2 separate regions of the Homo sapiens genome follow, and region 1 is linked to region 2. Evidence: fine-mapped expression QTL. A gene starts in region 2. The other region holds a variant in brackets. All regions are shown on one strand. Distances are between the middles of the regions.

Region 1 (2,905 bases), 210 kb before region 2:
CCCTCTGTATAAAAGCAACATTAAAATCTGTGAGCAATGACATTAACTCGGTTATCAAAGGAAAACAATGTACATATCTGATTCCATTAATCAATTGTCATGGTTTACAAAGCACTTTCACATATATCACGTAATTTTACTGCCCTTTATCTGATCATTCAAATAAGGTAAACGTTTTGTTTGGGAAACACGCCCTCTCTTATTGCAGGTTTGAAAGGCAGAACAGAATCTGGGATGATGAGAGTACATTAAACTGTCTCCTCTCTGTAGGATCCTGGGCAGAAAAGCCAGTTTGCATAGCTGAGTTTTCCCAGGTTCCTTATGTTTTCACCGTCTCAAGCACCAAAACATTTTTTATTTGAGCCACGTTGGATGCAAATCTTTCTAAATTTCATATTCTTATAATAGAGGATCTCTCTCATAAACACTTCTTTCTTTTCTTTTCTTTCTTTCTTTTTTTTTTTTTTTGAGACAGAGTCGTCTCGCACTTTCGCCCAGGCTGGAGTACAGTGGTGCGATCCCAGCTCACTGCAACTTCTGCCTCCTGGGTTCAAGCAATTCTCCTGCCTCAGCCTCCCGAGTAGTTGGGACTGCAGGCGTGAGCCACCACGTACAGCTAATTTTTTGTATTTTTAGTATAGATGAGGTTTCACCATGTTGGCCAGGCTAGTCTTGAACACCTGACCTCAGGTGATCCACTCACCTCGGCCTCCTAAAGTGCTTGGATTATAGGCGTAAGCCACTGCGCCTGGCCAGATCTCTTTCTCTTAATATAGGTAACTGGATAGATAACCGTATGTATATGTTGCCCCAGAAATGTTGCCCTAGAAAATATTCCAGGGACCTCATAAAAAACGGCATTTTTAGGATTTGACGTTCATTGTGGAAACTCTCTGGTTGGAGGTTTTAGCATTATATTGCCTTGAATATAGCAGGAGGGCCAAAAATATTTCTTAATTAATTGACAGAGTCCCCCTATTTAAGTTCATGTGATTCATGACCCCTTGCTGAAGCAGCAGAGTTTGTCAGCAGGGGTGATGTGCAGGGCCTGAGTCCTCATCTATAAAACCAGGGCTGGTCACTGATGTCCCTTCTACTGTCTATGATTGTCACTAACTTCCATTAGCTCCTTTATTTAAATACCACAACATGAAAACTGCAACGTTTGGTCAGTACTCATACACATGCACATGAGAGGGACAAGAGGGGGCATTTTTAAACAAAAGTAACTCTGCAAATGTATCTGCAACCTCTGCGATCAAGAATGCACTTATCACAGGGTCGGGATCCCTATCAGGAGCTTGAGACCAAAAGTGGTGGCTAAGGACCTCGGGATGCTTATGTAGGAAAGCAACCACAAAACTCTCAGCGATTTCAGTTTTGTGTTGTCCCATAATATAGAAATGCTGCCTGCTTTTTCTTTGTCTAAGAACATTAGAACATGCCTGCCTGCCTTTGCCACATTTCATAACCCACGAAGAAGAGTCACACACCAGACTGAGTCACTCTCTTGACATCTTGAAGTACGGTGCATGGGTTGTGTTAGGAAAGACTGAATGGAAGGAAGCTTGATGCACCAGACAGGCTCCTCCAGATAACCTGCATTGTCACTGGAAGTGTGTCAGACATTGCCGGGGGAGCAAATGCCCACACGGGTCACCTGTGCATCGTCTCAGATATGGTGTCATCCGAAAG[C/T]ATGAGGCCTACTCTGCTGTTCTCCATTGGATTGTTTCAGGGAGAAGAAGAGAAATCTCTTCAATGGGGCAGGGACAGAATTTTTATTCTGATGAAATAAAAATTTCCCCATATCAACTGATTCCTGTCTAGATAAACATGGGTCCCCTCTTCCCATGTGAAAGAAACTTATCCACACAGCACCATGAATATGTGTTTACCTTCAAGAGTACAAACTGCACTGTAGAAAACAGTTCCTGCATAAAGACTTGATTCTAAAATCCTTTCTGATGCACAATTTGATGATTGTGAGTGGGGGAGATGAGGAGGAAAAGCTCACTGGCTTTTCTTTTTTCAAGATATTAGAAAAGGATCACTGAATTGTTTATGACTTAAGTTCATAAAGGATGAATAATTGATTCTAAGATTCACTTACAAAAGATTCACTAGCATTCACTTACAAAAGCCTGCACATTGGTACCTGACTTAACCAATAAGGCTCAATAATTTTAGTAATTCCTATTTCTCTCTCGTAACTAAAACAACCTTGGAAAACTCAATGCAGCACTGGAGCACTCCCTGTGCCCTTGGTCAGCGCTGGCAAAGCTCTTGTGAATTAACTCTGCACCCTCAAACACTCTTCTTCCTGAGACTTCTCAGCTTCATGGGACTAGGGATGACAATACAATGGCATCTTAATGCAAAGTAAACAAATTAATGAATGGTGGGCAAAATGGGCTTTAGAGCTAAAAGATATGGGGCTTTCGCTTTTGGTGTCTTAAAAAAATAAAATCTGCAAATGATAAAAAGCTAAGCCCCAAAGTATGAGAAGGCAAAGTCCTAATTCCCTAATACCTCACCTGTGAAGCCTGGCAGAATAAGCCATCCTAAAATATGCTTACTTTAGCATAAGGACTATTTTGAGCTAAAGACAACTGGAAACAGCAGGTGCAGGAGGGGACTTCTGACCTCCTCTTTTCTTCCTGAAAGAAGGAGATGAAACTCCCATGTGAACAATGCCCTCCCCACACCAGGAGGAAAGAAACATTCTTATCACCAGAGACAGGGAGTCAAGGCCAAGAGAATTCTGTACCAAGAGACTTTGTTAAAATAATTCCTTTCTTCCTTTAGTCTCCCCACATATTTCAGCTGCTTTTCCATAACTGTTTCTGTTTGTTCAACCTAGTATACAAATATGTGGGTTTTGTCACTTCTTGGGTCTTCATTTTCT
Region 2 (2,905 bases):
ATGAACTTGTCATTTCCCCAAACGGTCTGGACAGTCTCCTACAAAAAAAAAAAAGAAAAGAAAGAAAAAAATACTCCATGGAATCTATGGTGTGTCAGTCCCCTTCCTAACATCTGAGTCAGACTACGTGTGTCTTTACTGAGGTTCTGGGTGCCCAGGGTGTATCACTTTCAGAATTGCTTCAGTAACTGAACTATGGCTGTCTTCCAGCCACGGACAACACAAGCACTATCTATTTTAAAACAATTTTCCTAACCCACCGGCAATGGAAGAGATCCCATAGGTCACCGACTTCCTATTGAAAACAAATTATTTCTCTCTCAAACTGCTTGCCGTCTCTCAGAATTAATGCGTGTTTATGTGTGCATATTTTTATCTTTGGCCATGCAACTCTTGGAGCAAAGAGGACCACCCCAAATTTTACCGACATGCCTGAGCCATTCAGAGCTTTAGAAGAGAAATGAACGAGTGCTGAGAGCCCTTAAGCCCAGGACTTCTCTCACACAAACAGTAAGTGGAAAGGAAAAAACAAAAACAAAAACAAAAACTAACCCTCCGTAGAGGGAGGGAGCAGGGTGGATGATAGGGAAAGGACATTAACCAGCAGACCAAAGGCAGCCGCGGCGGCGGCACTTCGCGAACTGCCTGCAGAGGAGAGTGAAATCTGTTTCGTGTACAATAACCAAGCACCCTCTGGCTGCCTCGCATGGGCACGAATAATAAATACACCGAGGTGGGCAAACAGATGCAACGAAACGAGCCACCCCAAAAAGGTCAAAACTTCAGAAATCCCGGGGGTCAAACCACCCACACAAACACATCAATCAGTCGGAGCGAGAGAAGGGACTTGGATACTTAGCAAAGGATCCTAAATTGTGTTTTTCCTTTCAAGCTCTGGCTTGCAAAGTACGGTGGCTACATGCAAAGCTAGAGGAGAGCAGGAAGGCTGAGGGCGGCAGGGTGCGGGTGGGAAGGGAGGGGTGTCTAACACCAGCCACCCAGGCCTCGATGTGACGAAAGTCGTCAGCAGCCCCGACCACATCCCAGCCCCTCCGCCCAGGCCGGCAGACGCCCCTCGCGGCTCCCCCACCCCAGCTTCCGTCCCTGGCAGCAACCCCGCCAGCCCCGCACCAGCAGCAGCCCCGGCCCGGGCCCCGCGCAGGCAGCGCCACGACCGCGGCTCCCATCCCTTCCGTGCGGCAGACACCCCGCAGGCCTCCCTCCCTGCCCACCCGGGGATGCCCGGGTAGCCGAGCCGGGGCGGGCTGCACCGCCAGCTCCCCCCGCCCCAGAGCAGGCAATGGCTCACACTTACCTTGGGCGTTCGCGGGGGGGCTGAAGGTGGCAAGCCTCCCGCCCCCCGCCCCTGTCCTCCTCGTCTTTTTTCTTCCTCCCTCCTCCTCTTCTTCCTCCTCCTCCCCACAGTGTGTCCGGGGCTCCCCCTCCTCCCCGCCGCTTGGAGTAAGAACCCAAAACCCCGAAGCCGGGCCCGCGTGCAAGCGTGCGGGAGGCGGCGGCGCGCGGCCAGCTCTCCAGTAACTGAGCGCGGCGCGCAGCTCCCAACTAAAGTGTGAAAGAAGCAGCGGCCGCGGCGGCCGCGGCACGGAACGTCCCCCCGGGAGTGGGCAGGGAGCGAGCGGGAGCTTGCGAGGAGCGAGCGAGGGAGGGGAGCTCCTCGCTCAGTCACTCACTCGAGGGGCGGGGGCAGCAGACACTCCCCCACCGCCGGCCCCTCCCCGAGCCTAGCTCCCGCGCGCGCCTGGCTCTCCTCCCCGGGGCGGGGCCTGCGGAGGCCGCCGGGGCGCAGCGCGCTGGGGAGCGGGTTGGGGGCTGCTAGGGCTGCGGGGCGGGAAGGAGGCGGCAGTGTGTGTGTGTGTGTGTGTGTGTGTGTGTGGGCAGGTGTGTGTGTGTGTGTACGTGTGTGCGCGCGCGCCCTGCAGCGGCCGGCCAGCCGGAGGGAAGACCCCGGCGGGAAGACTGCGTCCCGTCCGGCCTTCCCGGGCCTGTCACTTGGGCGGTGGCGTGGGAGCGGCGAGGCTGCTCGGGGGGCAGCCGGGTGGGCCCAGCTCTAGGGGAGATTCGGGTCAGCCCCTGAGCCCAGCCTCCCGGCTGTGCCTGCTGGAAGCAGACGGAGGGAAGGCCGGGCGTCTTTGGCCCACCGCGCGGCCGCTCCCCTCCCGGGCCAGGCTGAACGGGCGGGCGCAGCCCAGAGGCCCGGGCTCTGCCACCGATCCGCCTCCATACTGACCCGAGCTGCGGCGCCTGCAAGATTAATGAAGCATCCGCGATTCGGTAGAGGCGGCACGGGGAGGAAAGACACAAGATCGTGCTGCCCCCCTCTCCCCACCCTTCTCAGCCTCCTAGGACCTAAAGGCGTAGGCTGCGTCTGCTGGGCGCGTCCGGAGTGGTCCAGAGAGATCGCCATCCACCACTGCATCCGTCCAGTTCTTTGTGGACCCTCACAGAAGCTCAATCAATTTCCCACCCTCTGGAAAAGGGTATTTTTCTCTTCCCTGGCATATTGGGTGTTTCTTGTGTGCACCTAATTGATCTTTTTCCATTGATAGCCTTTGGATGTCTTTTGTGCGGCTTCCCCGCGCTTCACTGCTCCCTCATTGCCTTAGACACGCGAGGAATGTCAGGCCCCCAGAGTGAGAACACCCAAGAAAACAATAGGGGCAAAAGATCCTCCCTGGGCCTCGCGGATTATGCACAAACCAGATCATTTCCCACATTCGGCCAGGGTGAAGATGGAAAATGGAAAAGAACGCCATCAGAGTGGTGACACTGACGAGAAAAGCCAATTCATAATTTAGTTTAATGAAATGAGTTAGTAATCAACCACTAATGTCTAGGAAATTGGCCTTTTTTGAAAACTGGTTTTCCCTTTCTCCACCCCTTTTTT

Evidence for each region. PIP is the estimated chance that this variant, and not a neighbour inherited with it, causes the effect. A credible set is the group of variants that fine-mapping cannot tell apart.
Region 1: its variant is the best candidate, but not a certain one, in a credible set for the expression of C1orf21 in whole blood (TOPMed, PIP 0.55).

Annotation. Positions count from the first base shown.
Region 1 is chr1:184,594,437-184,597,341 of GRCh38, reverse strand. All of the region lies in intron 4 of C1orf21 (chromosome 1 open reading frame 21), which reads right to left. Among named protein-coding and RNA genes, the nearest start is that of EDEM3, 160 kb to the left of the region's middle. The variant C/T (reference allele first, on the strand shown) is at 1,696.
Region 2 is chr1:184,385,779-184,388,683 of GRCh38, reverse strand. C1orf21 (chromosome 1 open reading frame 21) reads right to left here and starts at 1,655. Exons shown (of 6, transcript NM_030806.4): 1 at 1,316-1,655. It overlaps C1orf21-DT (C1orf21 divergent transcript), which reads left to right and starts at 1,980. Exons shown (of 1, transcript NR_172919.1): 1 at 1,980-2,905. RefSeq lists silencers at 1,620-1,879, 1,910-2,019, 2,110-2,169.